Homo sapiens: one gene and its partners. The protein of the gene in region 4 purifies or fractionates together with the protein of the main gene of each other region. This does not show direct contact. Each region holds a gene or a part of one and is shown on either strand. Other genes may lie near its edges. The genes, in order: ACVR1B, LCLAT1, GJA1 and ADGRG5.

What was found.
Region 1: the proteins of ADGRG5 (region 4) and ACVR1B purify together in Homo sapiens (co-immunoprecipitation; 3 studies listed by BioGRID and IntAct, with this or other methods). This does not show direct contact.
Region 2: the proteins of ADGRG5 (region 4) and LCLAT1 purify together in Homo sapiens (co-immunoprecipitation; 3 studies listed by BioGRID and IntAct, with this or other methods). This does not show direct contact.
Region 3: the proteins of ADGRG5 (region 4) and GJA1 purify together in Homo sapiens (co-immunoprecipitation; 3 studies listed by BioGRID and IntAct, with this or other methods). This does not show direct contact.

Annotation. Positions count from the first base shown.
Region 1 is NC_000012.12:51,947,046-51,954,706, reverse strand, and holds the start of ACVR1B (activin receptor type-1B isoform a precursor), read right to left. Parts: upstream 3,009-7,661; 5' UTR 2,964-3,008; coding exon 2,873-2,963; intron 2,013-2,872; exon of another isoform or gene 1,936-2,012; intron 1,324-1,935; exon of another isoform or gene 1,208-1,323; intron 1-1,207. UniProt on the Homo sapiens protein: Transmembrane serine/threonine kinase activin type-1 receptor forming an activin receptor complex with activin receptor type-2 (ACVR2A or ACVR2B).
Region 2 is NC_000002.12:30,520,210-30,527,252, reverse strand, and holds part of LCLAT1 (lysocardiolipin acyltransferase 1), read right to left. Parts: intron 1,667-7,043; coding exon of another isoform or gene 1,663-1,666; coding exon 1,498-1,662; intron 1-1,497. UniProt on the Homo sapiens protein: Exhibits acyl-CoA:lysocardiolipin acyltransferase (ALCAT) activity; catalyzes the reacylation of lyso-cardiolipin to cardiolipin (CL), a key step in CL remodeling.
Region 3 is NC_000006.12:121,445,646-121,450,227, reverse strand, and holds the end of GJA1 (gap junction alpha-1 protein), read right to left. Parts: intron 3,397-4,582; 5' UTR 3,381-3,396; coding exon 2,232-3,380; 3' UTR 501-2,231; downstream 1-500. UniProt on the Homo sapiens protein: Gap junction protein that acts as a regulator of bladder capacity. A gap junction consists of a cluster of closely packed pairs of transmembrane channels, the connexons, through which materials of low MW diffuse from one cell to a neighboring cell.
Region 4 is NC_000016.10:57,566,600-57,573,642, reverse strand, and holds part of ADGRG5 (adhesion G-protein coupled receptor G5 isoform 1 precursor), read right to left. Parts: coding exon 6,892-7,043; exon of another isoform or gene 6,174-6,891; coding exon 6,052-6,173; exon of another isoform or gene 5,794-6,051; intron 5,788-5,793; coding exon 5,519-5,787; intron 3,226-5,518; coding exon 3,108-3,225; exon of another isoform or gene 3,010-3,107; intron 2,474-3,009; exon of another isoform or gene 2,322-2,473; intron 1-2,321. UniProt on the Homo sapiens protein: Orphan adhesion G-protein coupled receptor (aGPCR). Ligand binding causes a conformation change that triggers signaling via guanine nucleotide-binding proteins (G proteins) and modulates the activity of downstream effectors, such as adenylate cyclase.

The DNA of each region.
Region 1 (7,661 bases), on a different chromosome or scaffold from region 4:
GTTACTTGTTCAAGGACAACTTGTAAGGCAGCTAAGTTCTAGGGCTGAAAACCAGCCTCCTCCCTCCATCTGGCTTTAACCTTTAACCAGAGTAGCCATTTTAATATGTTTTATCACATCTGTTCCAGGAGCTGTTTAAACAAAACTAATCAGAGGTCTCTACAAGACTGCACTTCCACTGTACTTAAAATCCATGTCCACTCAACAAAATTACAAGGCTTGGCTTGAAATTAGATTTTTAGTCCGCTCACAAAATTTCAAAATGTTCCTATGAGAATGTCAAATATCTCTCTTGTTGCTTTTGTCTTGAGAAATGAATGTCATGTTCTCCTGCTACTAACTCAATTTTACATTTTTAAATGTGAAAATTCCAAAGCCAGGCCTTAAAACATGTACACCTATCAAACGGATGCTATTTCTAACTGAAACTCATTCTCCTTATCACTGGCCTTTTACTAAGTCCTAGTTAATTCATTAATTAATAGAAACACCTATCCCTTACTGCCCCTCACATCAAGTCCAAGTATCAGGCATCAGAGCTGTCTGGCTCTGTCACTCCTCCAGCCCACGTAGGGGAGCACTATATAGGAAATGCAGGGGAGGGGAAAAAAATCAACTTCTTGTTATCCCACAGCCTCTATTTTCCCAGAACTGACGTTTTACTTTAAGCCCTTTGCAGCAGTGGTCTCCATAGCATACACTATTGGCAACTAGACGTGTCCTGGAAAAAACTGTAGTGTCTGGCCAAGAAGTTTAAAGGCCCTGGAGAATGTTTGCTGGACACACAACCTAATTTCCAATTTACCAAAAAAAGAAACGAACTCCCTATTTTACTCACCCACCTTAACCCCCACAAACATCCATTTTAGGAAGGTTACAAAAAAATGAACTCTGCCCCATTCAGAACCACTTGGATTATCAAACATTCTTAACTAGGCTCACAACCAGAAAAACCCCACAAACACTACATCAAATCAGCAGGGAAATGACTGTTAAAAATCCTGGATATATTAGGGGCAGGATAAAAATTCCTATATGAGGATTTAAAGATTTATACATACACACATAAAATGACAAACCTAGAGGTTCAATCTCCCTTTTTTTTTTTTTTTACTACCCAGTAGAGAACATTATGTTACACATTCCAAAAACATGGCCCTTAATAAGGCCCGACGAACATCCTTATTCATGCAAATCATTATCTCACCACAAATGTCAAGCTCTGTTCATACACCTTCACCATGTTTCTCAAACCCCACAGCACAGATACCTAAGCCACAGAGCAGTGAGGCCGAAGAACACACACGAGGTGCTTAGGAGAAGCATTAGCCCGTGAACAAAGACCCCGCTGCACAGGCTCCACCACTGGGAACAAATATCAAAGCCGGAGATAATGAACTTGTTTTTGAGATTCCAAAGTGGCATGGTGTCTTTTCTTGACTGTCTGGTTTATTAAAGACGACTGAACCCACCTGAGAATCATTATTTTTAGTGTAAGAGAAGAGAGCCACAGAACACACTTTATCTCCCATTGCTGGAAGGTTAGGGGCTGCTGAGAAGTCAAAGCATCAGGCTTTGTACGTCAGGAGCGAATACAATCCTGATCATCTCTCCCAGATCCATCTGTGGGTCAATAATCGCTTCAATATAACTGCCAAATATAACCTTCATCTGCTACCCCAAGGCCAAAACACATTCGCCAAGACTCTCTTAAATGAAATATTTTAGGGTTTCATCTGCTCTTCTCAGCCCCCAAAGCCTCAAAAACAACACAGCCAGCGAAGTGTCCCGCAAAAAGGTACCCGCTTCTACAGAGAGGAGAGTGGGGGGGTGGTATAAGGCGAGCCGCAGACTGTGGGGATTGGGAGGTAAGGGGTGTGTGAGGGTGGGCGGGCTGGGAAGAGGCATCGTGTAGGAAGGTAAATAAGTACTGACCAAGGGCCGGGAATACAGTCCAGTGGTGGGATCTTTAAATAATCTTGGGGGTTTGGAGACAGGTTCCAGGATTTCACCTGAAAGGCATCCACAAAGTGATTAACTGAATGGGCCCCCCGGGGTAGGGTGGGGGAGGCGAGGAGGAAAGCAAATACACCTAGATTCACATCAACCCTTGGGGAACTCGGTTCCATAGGGTTAGGGATTCCAAAGCCAGGCTCCAAAAAGGTTTAGGGGCCTGTTCGTCCCACTTCCTCCAAATAGCCTCCACGGGGCATGAGTGCCGGAGGGCGGAGGGGGGATTGCCCCACTGAACTCAAGGGATTGAGTGAAGGGGAAATGTGACTCCCTTTCCCAGAACATTAGGGAGGCAGTGGAGGGAGGGGAAGAAACACGCCAAGTGCAGGACCTGAAGGAAAGGTTAGAGACCCCTTCCCCTACAGTCTGAGGTGCGCGGACTCTCAACATCAGGTTCCCTCGGAGAGGCTAAGACCCCACCGCCCGAACCCCACAGTCTTGGCGGGAGAAAGACGCCCCCCAGGAGCACCTGGAGGGAGGGAAGAAAGCCCCCCGCCCCTGGACACGGTGAAGGGCAGAAACCACGGACCTCCAAATCTTGGAGCTGGAGGCTCAGACTCCCCTCTCTGGAACACGAGGGCGCTGGGAGCGCGACCCCTGAGAACTGCCCGAATCCAGTTCCGCCTGGAACAGGGCTCGGGTCCCCAGGGGCCCGGCGTGAGCTCCGTCGCCGCCGGGCGGCTGCGCCTCGGAGATCGGGGAAGCTGACTGGGGGTCACCCCGACTCCTCTGCGCCCCCCACCCGGCCATATTGTGCTCGTGGGGAGGGGGCGCGCTGTAGTCCAGCGGCCGCGGCTCGAGGCCTCGCCCTTGCCGGGCCCTCTCCATCCCGGCCCCCGCCCCCCGTCCCAGGACTCACCCTGGACCCCCCGGGGCCCGGACCCGCCGCTGCCGGCGAGCAGGAGGACAACAAGGGGGAAGAAGGAGGAGGCTCCGGCCGACTCCGCCATAGTAACCACCGCCGCCGCCGCCGCCGCCGCAGCCCAGCAGCGCCCAGCGCGCGCGCGCGCGCCCCCGGCGCCTCCCCTCCTCCCGCGGCCCGGCTCCCGCCTCCCTCTCCTCCGCCCGGCGCCTGCACGTGCGCTCCCGGCGGAGCCGGCGCCGCGGCCGCCGCGCGCGCCCCCGAAGGGCGGGGCCGGGGCGCGCGCGGGCGCCCGCCTTAAAGGGGAGTGTCCCTGTTAAAGGGGTGGGCGGGGCTCACGCCTCGGCCAACTTCGCGGATCGGTGCCGAGCCCGGCGCGGAGGAGGCCGGAGCCGAACGTGCAGTCTCCTCCCTCTCCTGCACCCCACGCAGTGCAGAATTATCTTATCAGAGTCGATCCCCCGCCCCCGTCGAATATTCTACGAATCCCGTGCGTGTTCCAGTTCCTCCATCCCTGCGCCTAGCCTCAAGCCCCCAGCGCGTCCCCTGGGATCATCGCCGCGGTCTCCTAACTGGTTTCCCTGCCTCGCCTCGCCCCCTGCCATCCTCTGGACGCGGCAGCCTGTGTGATGGAATCGCGGCACGCGCCTTTTCAGAACATAGCAAAGCTCTTTATTGATGACAGTATGGGTGAGGGTGCCGTGTGAGGCACTCTGATTGGGCTGGTAGGTAGAACCCTTTTGGTAAACAATTGGCATTATGCATCAAATGCCTTAAAATCTTCATATCCATTTACCCAGTATTGTCCCCTGTCCTCAAGAAATAATAAGAGGACAGATGTTTATGAAAAATGTTAACTGTATATTTATCATTGTAAAAAAGGTAGAAACTAAGTAGACAATAATAGAAAATGTTAAATTATGGCCCATCCATATGATGGAACATTATTTAGTAATTTAAAATCCTGTTTACAAAAACTATTGACATGAGAAAATGCTTACAAGATAATGTTAAATTAAAAAAGCAAAATGCAACACTGTTTACAGTATTATTCAAATTGTACTGATAATATGTGTTTATAGGAAAAAAAGACTGGAAGGATATTTACCCAATAGTAACAGTAGTTATTGCCATAATTTTTTTACTTTTAACATTTCAATAATTTCTAAATATTTTTCAAATAAATGTTACTTTCAAATCTAGAAGAAATGCTTAAGAAAGTAAACAAATCACTCCGTATCTTTCTGAAAAGAGGTCAGTTTCTTTAGCTTGAGAAAGAACTTGATATAAAGGAAAGGGCAGAATTTTTGCAGCCAGAGAATTCTGGATCTGAATTCTGCTTCCTACTAACTAGCTGTGAAAACTTGGGCAAGGTTTGAACCTCTCTAAGCACAGCTTCACCATCTGAGATCTAGGGGTGGAAAGGATGGCCAAGAGATAGGGAGAACAGTTGCTTAAATGGAATTCTCACCTTCTAAGTTTCACCAACCTGAAGAACTCCCATCGTCATATCCGGAAAAAATAAAGCTGAAGACACACTCGCCAGACACAGTGTACACACAATCACATAAAGTCATGGGGAGGCATTGTCTACAAGTTGGTCAGTGTAGCTGGATGAGTAAATAACTTATTCTCCTCTCCCTCATCTCCCCCAAATAGGCACACCCCACCCAGTCCGTCTAAGTGGTTTCCAATCCATGCTCTATCCACCAAGCTGTGGTGCACACAGTGCTAGGTTACTGTGTTAGTTTCCTACTACCAAACTGGGTAGCTTAAAATACAAATGTATTCTCTCACTGTTCTGGAGGCTAGAAATCTGAAACCATGGTGTTGGCAGGGCCATGTGCTCTCTGAAGGCTCTAGGGAAGAATCCTTCCTTGCCTCTTCTAGCTTCTGGTGGTTCCCAGGATCCTTGGTGTTGTTTGGTTTGCGGAAGCATAACCCCATGTCTTCACATGGTTATCTTCCCTCTGCATCTACATCTCTGTCCACATTCCTCTCTTCTTATAAGGATACCAGTCATTGGATTAGGGCCCACCCTAATCCAGTATGAGTGCAAATGATCTTAATTGGTTACATCTGCTGCTAAGATCCTCGTTCCAAGTAAGATTACATTCGCAGGTTCCTGGTAGACACGAATTTTGGGTGGACACTATTCAACCCAGTACAGTCACCAACCCCTGCAGTTAAGAAGGGAAAGCCAACCCCTCAGGAGCACATATCTGAAGCCAGGGGGGAGGGAGGTATCTTTCCTTATTTCTTGCTAAGTGCTGCCACTGTGGCTTCGAGGCCAGGGGTCCCAGAGGGGACCTGTGGTTGCTTCACTCCTAGACAGTAAAGTCAGCCACACAGCTAAATATACAGATCAGGGAACCAGAATGCTGGCTCCACAGACCAAATGCCACCTCCGTCAGCTCCATCAGCTCACTTGACAGCATTGAACTTTGGGCAAGATACTTTACCTCCCTAAACCTCAATTTACTCATCTTGTAAAATGGAGCTAATAATAGTTCTATGTCATACAGATATTGTTAGTATTGATAAAATATGGTAAAGCATTTAGCATAATCTCTGACACATAGGAAGTGATCTAAAAAGAATAGCTATTATCATCATTATGAGTTGACCTTCACTACAATCCTAGGAAGTGGTTGAGGCATGTCAGAGTGTGCCCCGATGAAGTGACTGAGACTTAGAGAAGGTAAGCGATTTGCCAAGGCTCACATACAATCCATCATTAAAGCCACAGCCTACTGGTCCTGTGCTTTCTTCAACACCATAGCATCTCCTGCTTTTCTAGGTACTGGTCTTCAGGACCCAGCTGAAGGTGGAAAATGAGGTGGAGCAGGGGAGGGGTTAATCATATGCCTCACACCCCATTTGTGAGAGTTTGGGGCATCTCCAAACTAGAGCTTTCCTAGGTGATGTGTCTACCTTCCTTTTAGGTCCCGCGCTACATAGAGACTGCCTAATCCCTACCTGTGCCCTTCGCTCCTTCCCACAGCCTGGCCCAAGGATGCTTCCTGCTAGTTCTCCTCACCATCCCTGAAGGCCCCGGTAAGTGTCCATTTTCGTAAGCCTTCTTTTTTTTCTTTTTCTTTTTCTTTTTTTTTCTTTTTTGAGACGGTGTCTCGCTCTGTCTCCCAGGCTGGAGTACAGTGGCATGATCTCGGCTCACTGCAACCTCCGCCTCCTGGGTTCAAGCGATTCTTCTGCCTCAGCCTCCCAAGTAGCTGGGACTACAGGCATGCGCCACCATGCCTGGCTAATTTTTGTATTTTTAGTAGAGACAGGGTTTCACCACATTGGTCAGGCTGGTCTCGAACTCCTGATCTCGTAATCTGCCTGCCTCGGCCTCCCAAAGTGTTGGGATTACAGGCGTGAGCCACCGTGCCTGGCCTTGTAAACCGTCTTAATCTTAGGGCTGGACCCACATCACAGTCTATGAACTTCTTTTCCCCTCTGCCCTGTCTCTTTGTCAGGAGAGTCCCCAGAGCTAGCAGGAGCCACTTCTCCAGGAAAAAGTCTTACTCCTTAGTCCCACTGACTAGAGTGACAACTCAGTGTGACAATTGCCACATTGGTCGCAACGCACAGAGACACCACTACCTAGGGGATCATTTGCCTTGGTGAGCAGCAGGGTCATTCATCCCAAGAAGGCAATAGTTCATCTTCACTCATCCATTCCACAAGCACTAAGCACCTACAGTACACCAGGCACAACATATAGACATGGATAAGTCATAGTCCTCGCCTTCATGGAACTTAAAATCTAATACAGAAAAGCATGAGAAAAAGAGCAACAACGGGTTATCTCTGCGAGGACACAAGCCTGTAAAGAGCCAATGAGGGCCACTCAGGGGACATGAATGATTCAGCTGTGAGGGGACAGGCTGAGGAGTTGAGAAAGTTTTCACGAAGAGACAGGCTACGCTGATTCTTGGAAGATCAGAGAGTCCCCCCAGATAGGCCTGTGTCAGGAGGGCAGGAGATGGCAGGAGACTGTTCTGCCTGGCATTTAGGAGAACCGTGAGCAGCCTAGCGGTACACCCAGAAGATGCAGGCTGAAGATGATGGACAGTGGAAACGTAATGTTGGTGAGCTAGGCAGACGTGGAAGTCTACTTGGAAATGGAGCACACTGGAGTGGGAGTCTAATAAGAGACCCTCTTCAGTACACTTGGAAGGGTTCTAAGTGTAAATTGATCATGTTTGTATTTTAGGAAAGGCTAAACTGATCATATTTGTAAACTGATCATATTGTGTTAGGAAGATCACTTTGCTGAACCAAGTGAATTTGAACTTTGTACAGAGGCTGGTTGGAGGAAGACAAGACTGGTTGTAAGGAAACCAAAGAGAAGGCAAAGCCCAGGCAAGATAGGAGGTGGACCTGACCCCAGGCAGCAGCAATGTGAAGGTGGAAAAGAGAAACAGATTCAAGAGTTCAAAGACGTAGAAATGACAAGATTGATTGGATACGGGAAATGAGGAAAGGGGATGGCCCCATATGACTCTAGGATAATCTTAGGTGACTAGCTGCCTGGTAGTTTCATTCAGCAGACTAGAATGGGCAGGTTTGGGAAAAAGAAAATTAGTTCCTTGGCTGGGCGCAGTGGCTCACGCCTGTAATCCCAGCACTTTGCGAGGCCAACGCAGGTGGATCACCTGAGGTCAGGAGTTCAAGACCAGCTGGCCAACATGGCAAAACCCCTAAAAATACAAAAATTAGCTGGGCATGGTGGTGGGCACCTATAATCCCAGCTACTTGGTAGGCTGAGGCAGGAGAA
Region 2 (7,043 bases), on a different chromosome or scaffold from region 4:
AGATGATGAAACAAACACTAAAAATAGTTACATAAATGACATGAAAACAGTCAAATGTTTCAATAGGAAATGTCTCTGATTTTATGATGACAGCAAAATTACTTAACATACAGTTTGTAGATGACGTTTTAGAAGTATCTACTTGTGATGATTAATATTACATAAACTGAACAGTATTCTTATTTTACTTAATATATGTATATAGAGAAATACCCACCTTGTAAATAGAGAGTGATAGTGGTTAAGCAGCAACAAAAAATGAGTATTTTATGGCAAATGGTATGTTTAGGGTTGCAATGAAACACTGGGCTTCATATCTTTAAAGCTAATTTAAAAATGTAACTCTAAAAATTAATAGTCTTAGAAGTCAACTTCTGTCCTCTAAAAAAAGAAAAAGACTTTTAGTCACATGAAAGCCAGAAAAGAAATTAGTCAAGCTCTGTAAATCTACAATTAGGATAAGATATTTTAGGTAGAGGACTATTATCTCCTCAAGGACAGAGATCATATCTGTCCTGTTCATCACTGCATCCTAGCAAAATGCTAGGTACGTGGTAGACAATAAAAAATTGCTGGATGAACATTAAGAGATCCTGCCAACTACTCTTGCAATCCAATCACAAAACAAAGCATACTTATATTAAAAAAGCAAGAAGAAATTTTGCCTAAAAGACTGGCCCTGACAGAGTAAAAGGTACTAGACATCATCCAGCTGACTTAAAGGAAAATATGGCTATAATTAATAAATAGATGAGAAATCTCAAGAAAGTAACAGAACCAATAAAGAACCCAAAATAAATTCCAGAACTTACAGTATTTTAAATAAAAATTCACTAGATGAACAAAACAGCAGATTAAAGATGATAGAAGAAAGGGTCATTGAGCTTGAAAACAGATAAACAGAAATCATTCAATATGAAAAATACAGGGAAAAAATACAGGGGAAGAAAAAAGGAAGAGAGCCTTTGTGACATACGTGACAAGACAATCAATCTAACATACATATAATTGTAGTCCCAAAATGAGGAGAGAGAGAATAAGGCAGAAAAAAATGTGAAAAAAATAACAGTCTAAAATTTCCCAGTTAAAAAAATATAAAAACCAACCAACCTATCTATCTAAGAAGCCCAATGGAACACAGCAAAATACATGCAGCCCTCCACATCCCTGCGTTCAGCATTTGTGAATTCAACCAATCATGGATCAAATATATTCATGGGAAAAAAGGATGGCTAAGCCTGTACTGAGGATGCACAGATTTTTTTTCCCTGTCATTCCCTAAGCAATACAATTCCCTAACAATAACAACTATTTACATAGCATTTACGTTGTAGTCGGTATTATAAGCAATCTAGAGATTATTTAAAGCATACAGAAGGATGTGCCTAGGATATGTGCAAATACTGTAGGGACTTGAACATCCATGGATTTAGGTATCTATCAGGGGTGGGGAGCACTCTAGTACAAGCAGACAGTCTCCTCTGGTGTGTAACTTACCACAGGTAGGGTGAGCCATGTTGCCACAAGGCGGTTGTTGATCCAGCGATACCAAGATGGGTTTACAAACATCAAAGGTAAAAAGGGACTCAGCATGAAAATGCTTCCAAAAAAGCTTCCCCAAAACAGAGTCAGTATAAAGTAAATCCCTTTCCATGACACCATGATTCTGAAAGATATAAAAAAGGATATATTTTGTTACTATACATTTAACGGCTCGAATTCAATTTCAGGATGATGGAGCATAGAATGATCACTAATTTTAGGGCTACAGAAAGGCTCTAAGAAACAATATAAGAGTCTGAATTTCAAAGAGGTGACCCTCCTACATGCTCTACTGGTCTAACAAGTTGCCAGTACATTAGAAATTGATATTCTCTGGTCGGGTGCGGCGACTCACGCTGCAATCCCAGCACTTTAGGAGGCTGAAGCAGGTGGATCACTTGAGGCCAGGAGTTCGAGACCAGCCTGGCCAACATGGTGAAACCCCATCTCTACTAAAAATACAAAACTTAGCCAGCTGCGGTAGTGTGCCTGTAATCCCAGCTACGTGGGAGGCTGAGGTAGATGTTACAGTGAGCCAAGATCGCACCACTGCACTCCAGCTGGGACGACAGAATGAGACAGTTTCAAAAAAAAAGAAACTGATACTCTCAACAGAGCAAATATCTGACCTCCAAAAAGAGTTATCTAGTTTAAGAAGCCTTTTTTTTTTAACATAAAACCATATATTTTCTTTTCTAAGGTGTTATCTAACACAAACTCATAAAATATTCCAGAGTTTTTTCCTACCCAGAAGTAGAAGCAATTGACTAAAAACTACAGATGAGTTTCCTAAGTTGAGTACAACGGTCCCCACTTTGGATCCATTCCAAGACCCCCAGTAGATGCCTGAATCACAGATAGTACTAAACCCTACATATACATTACATACATACCATGATAAAGTTTAACTTACAAATTAGGCGTGGTGAGAGATTAATAACTATTATTAATAAAGTATTAAGTAAAATAAAGGTTCCTTGAACACAAGCACTGCTATACCTCGACAGTCAATCTGATCACCGAAACTGCTATTAAGGGACTAAGAGGCAGGTAGCATAGCATATATTGTATCAATGCACTGGACAAAGGGATAATTCACGTCCTGGATGCGACGAGAGAGGCATGGCATCAGATTTCATCCTGCTACTCAGAATGGCACACAAATTTAAAACCCATCAGTTGTTTATTTCTGGAATTTTCCATATAACATTCAAACCACAGTTGACTGTGGGTAACTCAAACCATGGAAAGCAAAACTGTGGTTAAGGAGGGGACTACTATACACCTAAAAACAATGACAAGTTAGCAGAGTACATTGAAATTTTTTAAAATCCAGAAATATTAATTCTTTATATTAGAATCTGAAAATAACATCTTGGGTACTTGGTCTTTAATTGACTCTTTATGAGTTGAAGGATTAAGTAGAACTTAGACTCTTCACTGGCTATTTCCAAAGGATTACTGTAGGGGGTCCTCATAGCCAGAACATCATACAGATGTTTTAAAATAAATGCTTGTTGGAAACACACAGTCTAAAATGAATAAACATTTGATTTTACAACCTAAACTATGTTAGAGAAAAACTGTGTTTTGCCTCAGAATAAAATTTTTAGAAACATTAAAACGATGAAAAAAAAACAGCCTTATAATCTATATAGCAAAAAGGTATCTGAGAGATCAAGACCTCTGAATATTTTAAAAGAATCACAACAGGAAACAGAATACATTTTCAAACGTCATGGTGCTTTTGAAAAATGTCAGACAGACAAACAACAAAACAGGTCAAATCCCTTAAAACACACAATCAAGACTGACTACTAAGTTTTTGTTTGTTTGTTTGTTTTGAGATTGCGTCTCACTCTGTCGCTAGGCTGAAGTACAGTGGTGCGATCTGGGCTCACTGCAAGCTCTGCCTCCCGGGTTCAAGCGATTCTCCTGCCTCAGCCTCCGGAGTAGCCAGGATTACAGACACGCGCCACCACACTCATCTGATTTTTGTATTTTTAGTAAAGACACGGTTTCACCATGTTGGCCAGGGTGGTCTGGTTCTCTTGACCTCATGATCTGCTCGCCTCAGCCTCCCAAAATGCTGGGATTACAGGCGTAAGCCACTGTGCCCAGCCGACTATTTTTAAATTTCTACTGATACTTGACAGTACGTGTACAAAATCCTTCAAAGTACAAACTGAATAAATATCAACTAAGAGCTGGCTTTTTGCTAAACTCTAGACCTAAACTTTAAAGAAGTGGGGTAACGGAGTAATAATGGTAGAGAAAAAGGCCACTGGAAAGCAGCATGCTGAACAATTCCCAGAGCTCACACATGGGGCCTAGAGTGGTCTGTGTTACCACCTATCCTCAACTTTGTTTTCTCTGAGGCTCAGGTCCTCCTCTTTGCGTTGATGACACTATAGCTAGCTTCTCCCCAGAAAAAAAAAAAAAACCTACGAACATCTTAATTTGGTATTGTTAATGCCTACTTCCTTTTATACACCCACCCCGCCCCCCAGTCCTGCAACGCTGCTGCTCTGTTTGAAACCCTGTAACTACCGTTTTCTATCTACTGTTTTTTTTTCTGCCAATTAGTGATTAGCTAGCTCTGTTTAACACTCACCCCTCAACTCCCTGCAGAGCTACACTTCACGTTGTATCCATATATAATGCTTCCCTTATCAAGGCTCTGGCATGCTTCTTCCTCACCAATTTCTGATTTGATGTGATTAACAGAAAAAAAATAAATTAGCTATCATATAATAAAATATTTTCATTATGCAGTGATGAAGCTGAGGCTCAGGAGAGTTAAGAAGACTTTCCTAAATCCACACAACAAATTAGTAGCATCAAATCTTTTCTGCTTACTGCTTCTTCTGCTATATCATGCTCTCTTTCTCCTGCGAAGGGGCCAGAAATTAGCCCTGAAATATGTCTCTAAACTCAGACTTAAGCAGGTAGAAAGGTGTGTGTCACATGAATATACTGGGATTACTCAGACCAAATCTAATCTAAAATTACTTCTATCCTACTTCTATTCCTTCCCTTTCAATCATTTGTTGATTTTCAATGATTCAATAAACATACAAAGATATCCCAATTACCGTGTGCCAGGCACTATGTTAGTCATCTGGGGATTACAACAGTGAATATGACAGAAATTGCAAAGCTCTCACAAATCTGATGGTCTCTCCATCTCTTCCTTATGAGCTCCTATGTGACTCTGCATTTAATCCAGCCCTATTCTTTATCTTCTTCCAAGTCTCAAGAGTTTGATGGACAAACTTGGTTCCAAATTATGCTAGCTATACACTTATTTGGAATAGCTAAAAAAAAAAATTTTAAAACAATAAAACCACTGACAATACCAGGAGCTGACAAGGATATGCAGCAACCAGAACTTGCAAACATTGCTGGTGGGAATGCAAAATGGGATGGCCACTTTGGAAAAGTTTGGTAGTTTCTTAAAATCCTAAATATACACTTACAATAAAACCCAGAAATTCTACTGAATATCCAAGACAAATGAAAATGTATATTCACACAAAAACCTATACGTAATTATTCACAGCAGCATTATTCATAATTACCAAAAACTGGAAACCAGCCAAATGTCAGTCAGGGAGAATGGATAAACAAAACCGTAGTACATCCACACAATGGCATACTACTCAGAATAACGACAAACTACTGATCCATGCAACATGTTGAGTTAATCTCAAATGTATTATGCTGAATGAAAGAGGCCAGACTCAAAAGATATGATTTTAAAATCTTTTACTGGATTATTTCATTTATATGACATTCCAGACAAGGCAAACCCAAAGGATAAGGAAACAGATCAGCGGTTGGCAAAGATTACAAGTAGGGAGATGGTTTGACTACAAAGAAACAACACAATATAAGTTTAGGGGGTTGGTCCAGCGGTGGCTCATGCCTGTAATCCCAGCATTTTGGGAGGCCAAGGGGAGCAGATCACGAGGTCAGGAGATCGAGACCATCCTGGCCAACATGAGGAAACCCCATCTCTACTAAAAATACAAAAATTAGCTGGGCATGGTGGCGCGTGCCTGTAATCCCAGTTACTAGGGAGGGTGAGGTAGAAGAATCGCTTGAACCTGGAGTCAGAGGTTGCAGTGAGCCAAGATGGTGCCACTGCACTCCAGCCTGGTGACAGAGTGAGACTCCCTCTCAAAAAAAAAAAAAAAAAAAAAAAAAAAAAAAAAAGAAGAAGTAGTTTAGGGGGTTGAGGAAACTGTTCTATTTCCTAGTTAGGTCACATTACAGCAAAGCTGTCCTGATCCAGACCCCAAAAGAGAGTTCTTGGATCTCGCCCAAGAAAGAATTCAGGGTGAGTCCACGGTGCAACCTGAAACCAAGTTTATTAAGAAAGTAAAGGAATAAAAGAATGGCTACTCCACAGACAGAGCAGCCCTGAGGGCTGCTGGTTGCCCATTTTTATGGTTATTTCTTGATGATATGCTAAACAAGGGATGGATTATTCATGCATTCCCTTTTTAGACCTTATAGGGTAACTTCTTGACATTGCCCTGGCATTTGTAAACTGTCATGGTGCTGGTGGAAGTGTAGCAGTGAGGACCACCAAAGGTCACTCTTGTCGCCATCTTGGTTTTGGTGGGTTTTGGCCAGCTCCTTAACTGCAACCTGTTTTATCAGCAAGGTCTTTATGACCCGAATTTTGTGGTGACCTCCTATCTCATCCTGTGACTCAGAATGCCTTAACTGTCTGAAAATGTAGCCCAGTAGGTTTCAGCCTCATTTTACCCAGCTCCTATTTAAGATGGATTTGTTCCAGTTCACACATCTCTGACAGTCACAAGACTATACACATTTGTGAAAATCCATAGAAAGTATATTTTTTAAAAAAGTGAACTTTACTGTTTGTAGATTTTTAAATAAATTTTTAAAAAATTATGCTATGTATATAAAAATCTGACAATATTTACTATTCTCTTATAATACGGGGAATTCTAATTTTCTGGATTATTTCAACTATAGTAACACCTAAAATGTATATAGCTTTTAAAATATTTCAGGCACTGTTTCATATATTTTACATGCCGACCTGTTCACCAGTCACAGCAATCTCATAATGTAGGTATTTTCATTACCTTAATTTTACATATAACGATACTGAGGCAGCAAGGGGTTAAGGAACTTACTTAAGGCTACACAGCTAGTAAATAACAAAACTGGAACTTTAAGCCAGGTAACTTGGTGTCAGAGTCCACACTCAGTCTGAAATGTTACACTACGCTTCCTTTTCAAGCCATGTATTACATCTGTAGTTAAATATACACCTATTTTTAAATAGCCTATAAAATAAAGATGTTACAATTATAAACTAAATTTTTAATACCTCATACAAAACTTATTCTGAATTTTAGAATTTATACAAACTTAGTGAGATAGCCTTATGTCTTTCTTATCTTACTGTTACTGGCAGGTGTTTGTTCTTAGAACTCCCAAGATGGTGGTGGGCCGCTCCC
Region 3 (4,582 bases), on a different chromosome or scaffold from region 4:
TTCAACACTTTATCTTCCTTTTGGTTCAATAAATATCCAAAAATGTTTACAATTTATGTTGCACTGAACAGAGCTAATGATAAATATTGTCCCTGAAAACATGACTGTTATTTGCTGAAGTTCTGATAACCAATAGAAATGTGTTTAAATAATCTCAAATAGATGCCGTCAATGAGTTTTAAATATAGGCCAGGTGCGGTGGCTCACCCCTGTAATCCCAACACTTTGGGAGGCTGAGGTGGGCGGATCACGAGGTCAGGAGTTCCAGACCAGCCTGGCCAACATGGTGAAACCCCATCTCTACTAAAAATACAAAAATTAGCCAGGTGCGGTGGCGGTGCCTGTAATCCCAGCTATTCGGGAGGGTGAGGCAGGAGAATTGCTTGAACCCGGGAGGCAAGGGTTGCAGTGAGACGAGATCGCGCCACTGCACTCCAGCCTGGGTGACAGAGCAAGACTCCATCTCGGCAGGGGAAACAAATCACACGGAATATAGAAGCTATGTTTATACTAAATTAAAACTTTATTGAATAAAGAACACTCTCCAGAACACATGATCTGATGGACTAGGTCTACATTACATGCAATGAAGCTGAACATGACCGTAGTTTAACATGGAATGTCAAACAAATTAGTAATTTTCATTGTACAAAACTGTTTATGTAGCTGACATGCATGCAAGAAGAAAAGTGTCATACTCAGCATTTTCACCAATCTTCTGTGATGAGTTTTAAAAAAGGCATTTGGAGAAACTGGTAGATGTCTTCAACATATAGTTCAAATAAATTAGTTGTATGTGTACTACTGAATCCTCTTTCAACCTCTCTTGCATTCCAAATAAAATCTTAGTGCAAACATCAAAGTTGCTGGTCACTCCAAAAGACTGCTAAACTCATAATAGAATACAAGTTCTGAATTACTGTGTATTAAGTAGGAAAACCCAAGAATACCAGTTACTGCAAAATTCATTTAGGCACATTTAATAGTCCACTCTAAGCATTTTTTCTAAGTCTCTCACATTAATGACTAAAGCCTGTTTACAGTACTAAAATTCTATCATTCAAGCATCAATGATTACATTTCAGAAAAAGGAAATTCATTTCAGTAATAGCATTACTGCTATATCCTAAAAAAAGGAGAGAAAATAAAGAATCATAATTAACAAAACCAGTATCCATAATAGGATACACAGGGAAAAACATTTTAGGAGAAAAAAAAAGTGTGCTTTACTTGCCACAGCAGGAATTATATAATGTAAACACCATATTGGCCCACACCACAAAAATCCATGAGAAAGGTTCAAATTTGAACACCATATGTGCATTATTTTCAAATCTGTGTTTGTGAGTTTATACTGTATCTGCTTGTACCAATACATGACAAACAAAACAAACTCTTCGACACACATATAAGTGATTGTTAAATATTAAGCATGGCTTGATTCCCTGACTTTAGCTCAAAAAAAAAATGTTAAGTGACATCCCAACTGTCTTAAAAATGTTTACAGAAACCATTAAATGAATGTGAGTAGTAGCTGAGGAATGATGAAAAAGTGATGGTAATGATATTGTGCAAGTGGATGGAAAAAGAATATACGTATTTGCAAATGCATGGAAAATCTTATTCTGTGGGCCTTGTCTGAATTTTAAACTGATACCAAGAATAAAAAAATATAGTAGCACAAGTCCATTGACACCTGGAGGGTCAGGCCTAGAAAGCTTACCTTCAAAGTGCAAATTTTAACAATGGAATGTTTTAGCAGGGACTTAAGGACAATCCTCTGTCTTTTTCTTGTTGAAAAGACCTAAGATGTTCAGGAAGTATTTATTCCTGGCCAGAATTATTTCAGTTTCTTGGTAAAACAAAAATATTTAGCCACAATTACCACCCGCTCATTCACATACACAGAACCATTCTTAGGGGTGTTTGCGGGGAGAAAAAGCCCTTATCTATGTATCACCTAATGGAACTCTTATTTATAATCTAAGTTCTTTGAATCCACTACTTTAAATACCAACATGCACCTCTCTTATCCCCTCCCTCTCCACCCATCTACCCCATACACCCCCAGTGAACCTAGGTATTCTAATGTCTTTGTGTTTTCTAAGCCTCATGAATAAGGCTGTTGAGTACCACCTCCACCGGATCAAAATTAACACCTGGTGCACTTTCTACAGCACCTTTTTTCTTCTCCACAATTGAGTGGAATCTTGATGCTTTCAAGCCTGTATCTAGATCTCCAGGTCATCAGGCCGAGGTCTGCTGCTGGCACGACTGCTGGCTCTGCTTGAAGGTCGCTGGTCCACAATGGCTAGTGGCTGTAATTCATGTCCAGCAGCTAGTTTTTTAGAATTCTGGTTATCATCGGGGAAATCAAAAGGCTGTGCATGGGAGTTAGAGATGGTGCTTCCCGCCTGCCCCATTCGATTTTGTTCTGCACTGTAATTAGCCCAGTTTTGCTCACTTGCTTGCTTGTTGTAATTGCGGCAAGAAGAATTGTTTCTGTCGCCAGTAACCAGCTTGTACCCAGGAGGAGACATAGGCGAGAGGGGAGCGGTTGGTGAGGAGCAGCCATTGAAATAAGCATATTTTTGAGACCCACAGTCTTTGGCAGGGCTCAGCGCACCACTGGTCGCATGGTAAGGGTCGCTCTTTCCCTTAACCCGATCCTTAACGCCCTTGAAGAAAACATAGAAGAGTTCAATGATATTCAAGGCCAGGGACACCAAGGACACCACCAGCATGAAGATGATGAAGATGGTTTTCTCCGTGGGGCGAGAGAGGAAACAGTCCACCTGATGTGGGCAGGGATCTCTTTTGCAAGTGTAAACAGCACTCAAGCTGAATCCATAGATGTACCACTGGATCAGCAAGAAGGCCACCTCAAAGATAGACTTGAAGAGGATACTGATGATGTAGGTTCGCAGCAACCCCCCTCGCATTTTCACCTTACCATGCTCTTCAATACCGTACTTGAACTTCTTTATCTCAATCTGCTTCAAGTGCATGTCCACATTGACACCATCAGTTTGGGCAACCTTGAGTTCTTCCTCTTTCTTGTTCAGTTTCTCTTCCTTTCGCATCACATAGAACACATGAGCCAGGTACAAGAGTGTGGGTACAGACACAAATATGATCTGCAGGACCCAGAAGCGCACATGAGAGATTGGGAAAGACTTGTCATAGCAGACATTTTCACAACCAGGTTGCTGAGTGTTACAACGAAAGGCAGACTGCTCATCTCCCCAGGCTGACTCAACCGCTGTCCCCAGCAGCAGGATTCGGAAAATGAAAAGTACTGACAGCCACACCTTCCCTCCAGCAGTTGAGTAGGCTTGAACCTTGTCAAGGAGTTTGCCTAAGGCGCTCCAGTCACCCATGTTGCCTGGGCACCACCTGAAAGAAACAAAGAGACAATTCAAGGATCACAGATTGCAAATTACTAGTTTAACATTTAGTACCTTTCAGGTGATAGTCAAAATACTACCAACGGTTTCACGTATTTCTAACATTCTTTCACAAAAAACCAAGTGCAAACTCTTCCTGTCCCATTTTTGCCAACGAAGAAAAGATCTAACAAGTGTTTTGTTTTGTTTGTTGAGACAAAGTAAGTCTTAGAAGCAACAGATGATGAGTTGCAGTCTTTAACCTGGGAAGGTGTATTGCTTGCTCAACCACTGCCTTGCTGTGTGACTTGAGAAGCCACCTGTGCTAAGCCTCTGCTCCTTTTATTTGTCTGATAAATGAGGACAGTTTTTGCCTGGTAGATCTGTGTTTGCTAAGCAAAATCCTGATGTGTGTTATTCAAAGCATAGGTATCAAGAATCCAGGTAAGAATACCTATAAACACACATCCATAACCTTCTTTCCAAAACCTTAATGCTATTATATATCATTTTATTACTAATTTCACTCTGAAAGATTTTTTTTTTAAGATGGTGTTTCCCTCTTGTTGCCCAGGCTGGAGTGCAATGGCACAATCTCAGCTCACCACAACTTCCGCCTCTTAGGTTCCAGCGATTCTCCTGCCTCAGCCTCCTAAGTAGCTGGGATTACAGGCATGTGCCATCACGCCTGGCTAATTTTGTATTTTTAGTAGAGATGAGGTTTCTCCATGTTGCTCAGGCTGGTCTCGAACTCCTGACCTCAGGTGATCCATCTACCTCAGCCTCCCAAAGTGCTGGGATTACAGGTGTGAGCCACCACGCCTGGCCTCTGGAAGATTTTTCAATGGTATATCAAGTGTAATTTGTGCATACCCTATATTATTGTCATTTACACTTTTCTGTTTCTTTTTTTAGAGATAGGATTTCACTATGTTGCCCAGGCCCCTGGGCTCAAGAAATCCTCCTGCCTTAGCCTCCCAAGCAATGGTGACTATTTTTTTCTTAAGCAGTGACTTATGTAGCTCAGAAGTCAGCCTTCTGTCCAGAGAAAAAGTAGGCTGTATGGAAATATACTCTTTTGCTACAATGTGTCATTATATGTAGTAACCTACTTTGAAAAACAAAGACTAAATACACATCACACTTCATGTAAAAAGTTCATTTTGTCTCAATACTACTCACAGCCTTATTAAAAA
Region 4 (7,043 bases):
TACTTCATCCTCCTCATTTACAGAGGGTGTACATCAAGTAACCAATGGAAACCTCTAGAGCATATTTAAATCTCCACAAATTCTGTAATAGGGCTCTTGAGGCCCTATGCTCTGGCCCACTCCCACACTGTAGCGTGTACTTTCATTTTCAATCAATCTCTGCTTTTCTTGCTTAATTCATGCCTCACTCTTTCCTTTTTTTTTTTTTTTTTTTGAGAGGGAGTCTCTGTCACCAGGCTGGAGTGCAGTGATGTGATCTTGGCTCACTGCAACCTCCGCCTCCCAGGTTCAAGCAATTCTCCTCTCTCAGCCTCCTGAGTAGCTGGAACTACAGAATCCTGACACCACGCCCAGCTAATTTTTGTGTATTTTTAGTAAAGACAGGGTTTCACCGTGTTGTCCAGGTTGATCTCGAACTCCTGACCTCAGTTGATCCACCTGCCTCGGCCTTCCAAAGTCCTGGGATTACAGGCACGAGCCACCATGCCCAGGCTTGTCCAATTCTTGGTTCAAGACGCCAAGAACCTGGACACCCTCCACCAGTAACGATGTGCTTTATGTGACTTGTCCCCTGCAATCCCCATGACAACCCATAAGGCAAGTACATAATCGTCCTCATCCTGCAGATGAGGAAACTCAGGCTCTAGCTCAGGAACACAGTCCAGTTAGAGGCAAAGCTGGATCCTGAAGCCCCAGGCCCAGAGCCTGAGCCCCTAACTGTCACAATCCCCTGCTGAGGTTCACTTTGTGGCTCCTGCCCCTACAGTCACAAGGGTCCCAGGACATTATTTTGGGATTCCTCCAAGTTGATGAGTGTGGTAGGCGACCACTCACTTTCACCGCTAGGGAATATCCCCACGGGGGCAGCTCTACTGCAGTCCATTCATCCAGCATCCCGTCAGTGGACATCTGAATGATTTTCAAGGGTTGTATTTGTTTTGTTTTGTTTTTTGAGACGGAGTCTCGCTCTGTCTCCAGGCTGGAGTGCAGTGCCGCAATCTCGGCTCACTGCAATCTCCACCTCCCGGGTTCAAGCGATTCTCCTGACTCAGCCTCCTGAGTAGCTGGGATTACAGGCACCCGCTACCATGTCTGGCTAATTTTTGTATTTTTAGTAAAGATGGGATTTCTCCATGTTGGCCAGGATGTGTTTTTTATTTGTTTGTTTGTTTGAGTCAGAGTCTCGCTGTCGCCCAGGCTGGAGTGCAGTGGCGATCTCAGCTCACTGCAAGCTCCACCTCCCAGGTTCACGCCATTCTCCTGCCTCAGCCTCCCGAGTAACTGGGACTACAGGTGCCTGCCACCACGCCCAGCTAATTTTTTGTATTTTTAATAGAGACGGGGTTTCACTGTGTTAGCCAGGATGGTCTTGATCTCCTGACCTCATGATCTGCCTACCTCAGCCTCTCAAAGTGCTGGGATTACAGGCGTGAGCCACCACGCCTGGCCTGTTTTTGGTTTTTAACTGATGTTTGGGTTTAGGAATGTGTATATACATAGTAAGAGATGTTTTAAATTAAAAAAAAAAAAAGTCACAAACCCCAAGGTAATTGTTTCCTGAGAGGAGAGGGCAGAGTGAGGAAGACCCAGGGAGAAGCTGGCTCGTAGGTGGGTGTTCTCTAACATCTGTGCATTAGTGGGTCCTGTGGACGTGTCACTAAAGCTCCTTTGTCCTCATCATATTATTATATAAGAAAATAGGCTGGGCATAGTGTTCACGCCTGTAATCCCAGCACTTTGGGAGGTCAAGGCAGACGGATCACCTGAGGTCAGAAGTTGAGACCAGTCTGGCCAACATGCTGAAACTCTGTCTCTACTAAAAATACAAAAATTAACTGAGCGTGGTGGCACGCGCCTGTAATCCCAGCTACTCACAGGAGAATCGCTTGAACCCAGGAGGCAGAGGTTGCAGTGAGCCGAGATCACACCATTGCACTCCAGCCTGGGCAACAAGAGCGAAACTCCATCTCAAAAAAAAAAAAAAAAGAAAAAAAAGAAAATACATCTTCAGAGAGTATGTAAACTGAGGCCAGAGCCTCTATTTCCTCATCTGTAGGTTGGGGATGATTATGTACTTGCCTTATGGGTTGTCATGGAGATTGCAGAGAACAATTCATGTAAATTGAAGTCACATGTCCTCTGATACACCCGAGCCTCAATGTGAGAGGGATCAGCCCCACCTATGTAGCACGCAGTCCCCCGGCCCTGCTTCAGGGGCTGGGGGCCAGGCTCTGGACCAGCCTGCCGGAGACCAAGCCCCAGCTCTGCCACTGACTGGCTAGGGCTCCTCAGGTAGAGTTCTTAAGCTGCCTGTTTCTCAGGTGCCCTAACTGTAAAATAGGGCTGGCAACAGGACCCGGCCCTTGCCCTTGTGAAAACGAAGCCAGCTGATACCCAAGGCCTGCCACAGAATCAGCCCCCATCCTGAGCCTGCATCAGCCAAGAAGGAAAAAGGTTCCACAGCCAACTGCAAGTGAGTGATGGGCGCGCGGGGGTTCCTTAGGCTAGTCTATGTCTGGCTATTAGAAATGTTGCATAATAATAAAAAGCTTAACGTCCTCGCCTGCAGGGAGGGGCTATTAAAAAAAAAGCAGCAGCGTGTCCCCCGGCCCCTAAAGGCCCACCTCGCTGCCTCTCTTTGTCTCCCCCAAGCCCAGCCCCCACAGCACTCTTGTCCGACTAGGAGGACTTGAGAGGCCTGGCAGTGCCCAGGGCAGGTCGGGAGGAGTTGGAGCCTGGGTAGGTGCAGCAAGGTGGTCTGCAGGGGAACAGAGTCAAGTGCAGGCTGAGCCAGACCCTCAGGGCCTGGGCACTGGAGGGCAGGGCAGGACAGAGGAGGCGGGAGGCCCGGCTGCCCTGGCAGGTTGGCGAGCAGACGCTGGCTTCGTAGACTTCACCAGCATAGAACACAAGGCTGCCTCTGCAGGAGACCTGGATCCATGGAAGGGATGTGGTGGAGCCCCCTGCAAACTCCCCTGTCTAAGCCCCAGCTCCCTCTCTGCCCCACAGCCAGTGCTTTGCCTACAGGATATTCCATTTGGAGCCCCAGGCCCATGTGGCCCTTCTGCCAGAGCCAGGGAGCCCACTGCAGCCCTGAGGGCACTCACATGGACATGTTCTGGAAGCCTGTGCCATTCTCCCAGCTGTCGAAGACGGGGATTGTGCAGGGTCCGTATACCGAGCTCTTGACAGAGAGGGAAAGCAGCACCAGGAGGGCTGGGGCCCCTGAGGGGTGGGACAAAGGCTCAGGAGATGTGGGAGAGGGCTGACCCTCGGTCCCTGGGGCGGTCCCTGGGGCTGCTGACACAGAATTTCACTGGTCAAGGGACAACTGAGAGGAGACTGTTGTGAGCCCCCAACTTCAGAGCAATGAGCCTGGTGGTTTGGAGGAAGCTCTCCTCCAAGATGATGTTAGTGACGGCTCTACGATGGAACAGTGGTGGAGGGAGGAGTGGTCACACTGGGAAGGTGGTGGTGGGGAGCAAATGGGAGGGAGGACTGGGGAACTGCTGAGGAAATAGAAATAAGCAAGAAAGGGGCAAGGACGGTGATGAAGGTACCAGTGATGGTGCTGCTGGAGATAGAGAAGGTGGAGGAAGTGATGATGGTGGAGATGGAGGTGGAGTAGGTGGTGATGGTGGTGAAGGAGGTAGAGAAAATGAAGGCGGTAATGGAGGTAGAGGAGGTGATGATGGTGCTGATGGAGGTGGAGGAGATGGAGGTGATGATGGTGATAGTGCAGGTGGAGGAGATGATGGTGATGACAGAGGTGGAGAAGATGGAGGAGGTGACGGTGATGATAGACGTGGAGGAGGTAATGATGATGATAGAGGTGGAGGAGATGGAGGAGGTGATGGTGATGATGGAGGTGGAGGAGGTGACGATGGTGATGACAGAGGTGGAGGAGATGGAGGATGTGATGACGATGGTGATAGAGGTGGAGGAGGTGATGATGGTGGTGACAGAGGTGGAGGAGATGGAGGAGGTGATGATGGTGATGATGAAGGTGGAGGAGGTGATGATGGCGATGATAGAGGTGGAGGAGATGGAGGAGGCGATGGTGATGATGGAGGTAGAGGAGGTGATAATGGTGATGATAGAGGTGGAGGAGATGGAGGAAGTGATGGTGATGATGGAGGTGGAGGAGGTGATGATGGTGGTGATAGAGGTGGAGGAGATGGAGCAGGTGATGATAGTGATGACGGAAGTGGAGGAGGTGATCATGGAGGTGATAGAGGTGGAGGAGGTGGTGATGGAGTTGATGGAGGTGGAGGAGGTGGTGATGGAGGTGATGGAGGTGGAGGTGGTGGTGATGGAGATGATGGAGGTGGAGGTGATGATGATGGAGGTGGAGGAGGTGATGATGGAGGTGATGGAGGTGGAGGAGGTGGTGGTGGAGGTGAAGGAGATGATGGTGGTGGTGAAGGAAGTGGAGGAGGTGGTGGAGGTGGAGGAGGTGATGACGATGGTGATGAAGGTGGAGGAGGTGGTGATGGAGGTGGAGGAGGTGATCATGGTGGTGAAGAAGGTGGTGATGTACGTGGAGGAGGTGATGATGGTGGTGATGAAGGTGGAGGAGGTGATGGCGATAACGGAGGTGGAGGAGATGGTGATGGTGGTGATGGAGGTGGAGGAGGTGATGGTGATGATGAAGGTGGAGGAGGTGATGATGGTGGTGATAGAGGTGGAGGAGATGGAGCAGGTGATGATGGTGATGACGGAGGTGGAGGAGGTGATCACGGAGGTGATAGAGGTGGAGGAGGTGGTGATGGAGGTGATGATGGTGGAGGAGGTGGTGATGGAGGTGATGGAGGTGGAGGAGGTGGTGATGGAGGTGATGGAGGTGGAGGAGGTAGTGATGGAGGTGACAGAGGTGGAGGTGGTGGTGATGGAGGTGATGGAGGTGGAAGAGGTGATGATGGAGGTTGAGGAGGTGATGATGGAGGTGATGGAGGTGGAGGAGGTGGTGGTGGAGGTGAAGGAGATGATGGTGGTGGTGAAGGAGGTGGAAGAGGTGGTGGAGGTGGAGGAGGTGATGATGATGGTGATGATGGTGGAGGAGGTGGTGATGGAGGTGGAGGAGGTGATCATGGTGGTGAAGAAGGTGGTGATGTACGTGGAGGAGGTGACGATGGTGGTGATGAAGGTGGAGGAGGTGATGGCGATAACAGAGGTGGATGAGATGATGATGGTGGTGATGGAGGTGGAGGAGGTGATGGTGATAATGAAGGTGGAGGAGGTGATAATGGTGGTGGAGGAGGTGGAGGAGGTGATGGTGATAATGAAGGTGGAGGAGGTGATAATGGTGGTGGAGGAGGTGACGATGATGATGATGGAGGTGGAAGAGGTGATAAAATTAGTAACATAGAAAGTAGAGGTGGGTGTAGACAGAGTTCACAGCTGGTGGTCATGTAATGGCCACTATGACGATGAGGAGGAGGGGAAAGAAAGGACTAAAGGGGATCAATACCCTGCCCACCTGGAAGTCTGAGGAGGCGAGGAGAGATGATGTGCTTACCCCAGCCTAGCACACCAAGCTTGAACACATATCTGCGGATGTAGATGTTGTAGACACGCCCGAGGAGGAGGTAGAGGTTGAAGCCCTCGATGGCCATCCAGGTGAGGCAGCTGAGCAGCGCGTAGTGCAGGGCAGCGGCCAGAGCCGTGCATGCTGACCCGGGCACAGGAGACATTGCGAATGCGGGGCTCAGCAGGAAGGCGATGTTCAGGAGCAGCACGGAGGCATGCAGGTTCATGTGGATGCGTGTTAAGGAGTCACTCTGCTTCCTGCAGGTGAGAGAATGGTCCTCCATGGCCCAGGGACATCACCCAGGCAGCACTACCCACTGGGTGCATAGGTGCATGCCGACAGGGAAACTGAGGCGAAGAAGGGGCAGGGATCCCACAGCAGTCGCACCACAAGGCTGGTCTCCCGCCTCCTGGTCCCCACCCTCTGGAGAAGCACACCCAGTTCTAGTGGACTAAATGGGACACAAGGAAGCGTGATGTGCCACAGTGCAGGGCAGGCCCAGCACTGTGGCAGCGGAATACCTGAAATGGAAGTGCAGCAGGACTGTGATCAGCGAGGCCACGATGGAGATGCTGCAGCCCACGAGGGAGATGTACGTAAGAGGTGCCAGCAACTCTGCAGGGACCAGGGCTGGGGAGAGTTGCTGCAGGAGGGAAGAGGGGCTGGAGGCCAGAAGCATAGTATCGCCCTTCCTCCCAGCCTCAGTCAGAGGGACCTCCTGAGGCCTCCTCTCCAAGTCCCCTTCCCCACAAGCCTAGCCATGGACCTGGCTTGAACAAGGCCATGGCAGATACAGTCAGTTTTGCCCCCTCCACATCTCCCATCTCCCTCTTCTTCTATGAGTGCCTCCCTTCTCCCACTCCCTATGCACCTGTGGGGTTCCACCACTTTGCCCTCTTTGTGCAGAAAGGGGTGCCAGGCCTGGTCAAGCAGGGCCCTCCCTCCTTCTGCCTATAGCGATTGGGTCAGGGATGAGCACATGGCTGGCAGAACTGGGTAAAAGAAGATTTTATTCCACTGGCCTGAAAGCTAGCAGGGCATGAGCCTGGAACTGCTGCCAGCTATATTATTATCTCATAAGGAGATCCTATTTGAGGGCTAAGCCAGCACAGAGCAAGCACAGTTGAGGGACAAAGATAGAGTGCTATCTTAGTGATCTTAGTGATCAGCCCGTGGATCAAGCCATGCCTGAAGCCTAACCCAGCCTTTCCAGAAACATGAGTCCATAAAGTTTTTTTTGTTTTTTGCTTAAGCCCATTTCAGTTGGACTTTCTGTCCCTTGCACCAGCTTTTGCCTTGCTCCTCTGCCACAGACACAGGGCCCTCTGTAGCTCTGAGCCCCACTCAGGATGCATACATACCATGAGAACAGCAAAGTAGGTGAGGTGGTTGCAGCGGCAGAGCACCTGAGAGTGGGAGGGCTGCTCTGTACGACAGCCCTCAGGGCTCCAGCCCCCCCAGGGCTGTTTCCTGGCTCCCTCCTTCCAGAAGACACAGGTCAGGGTGTAGCCTT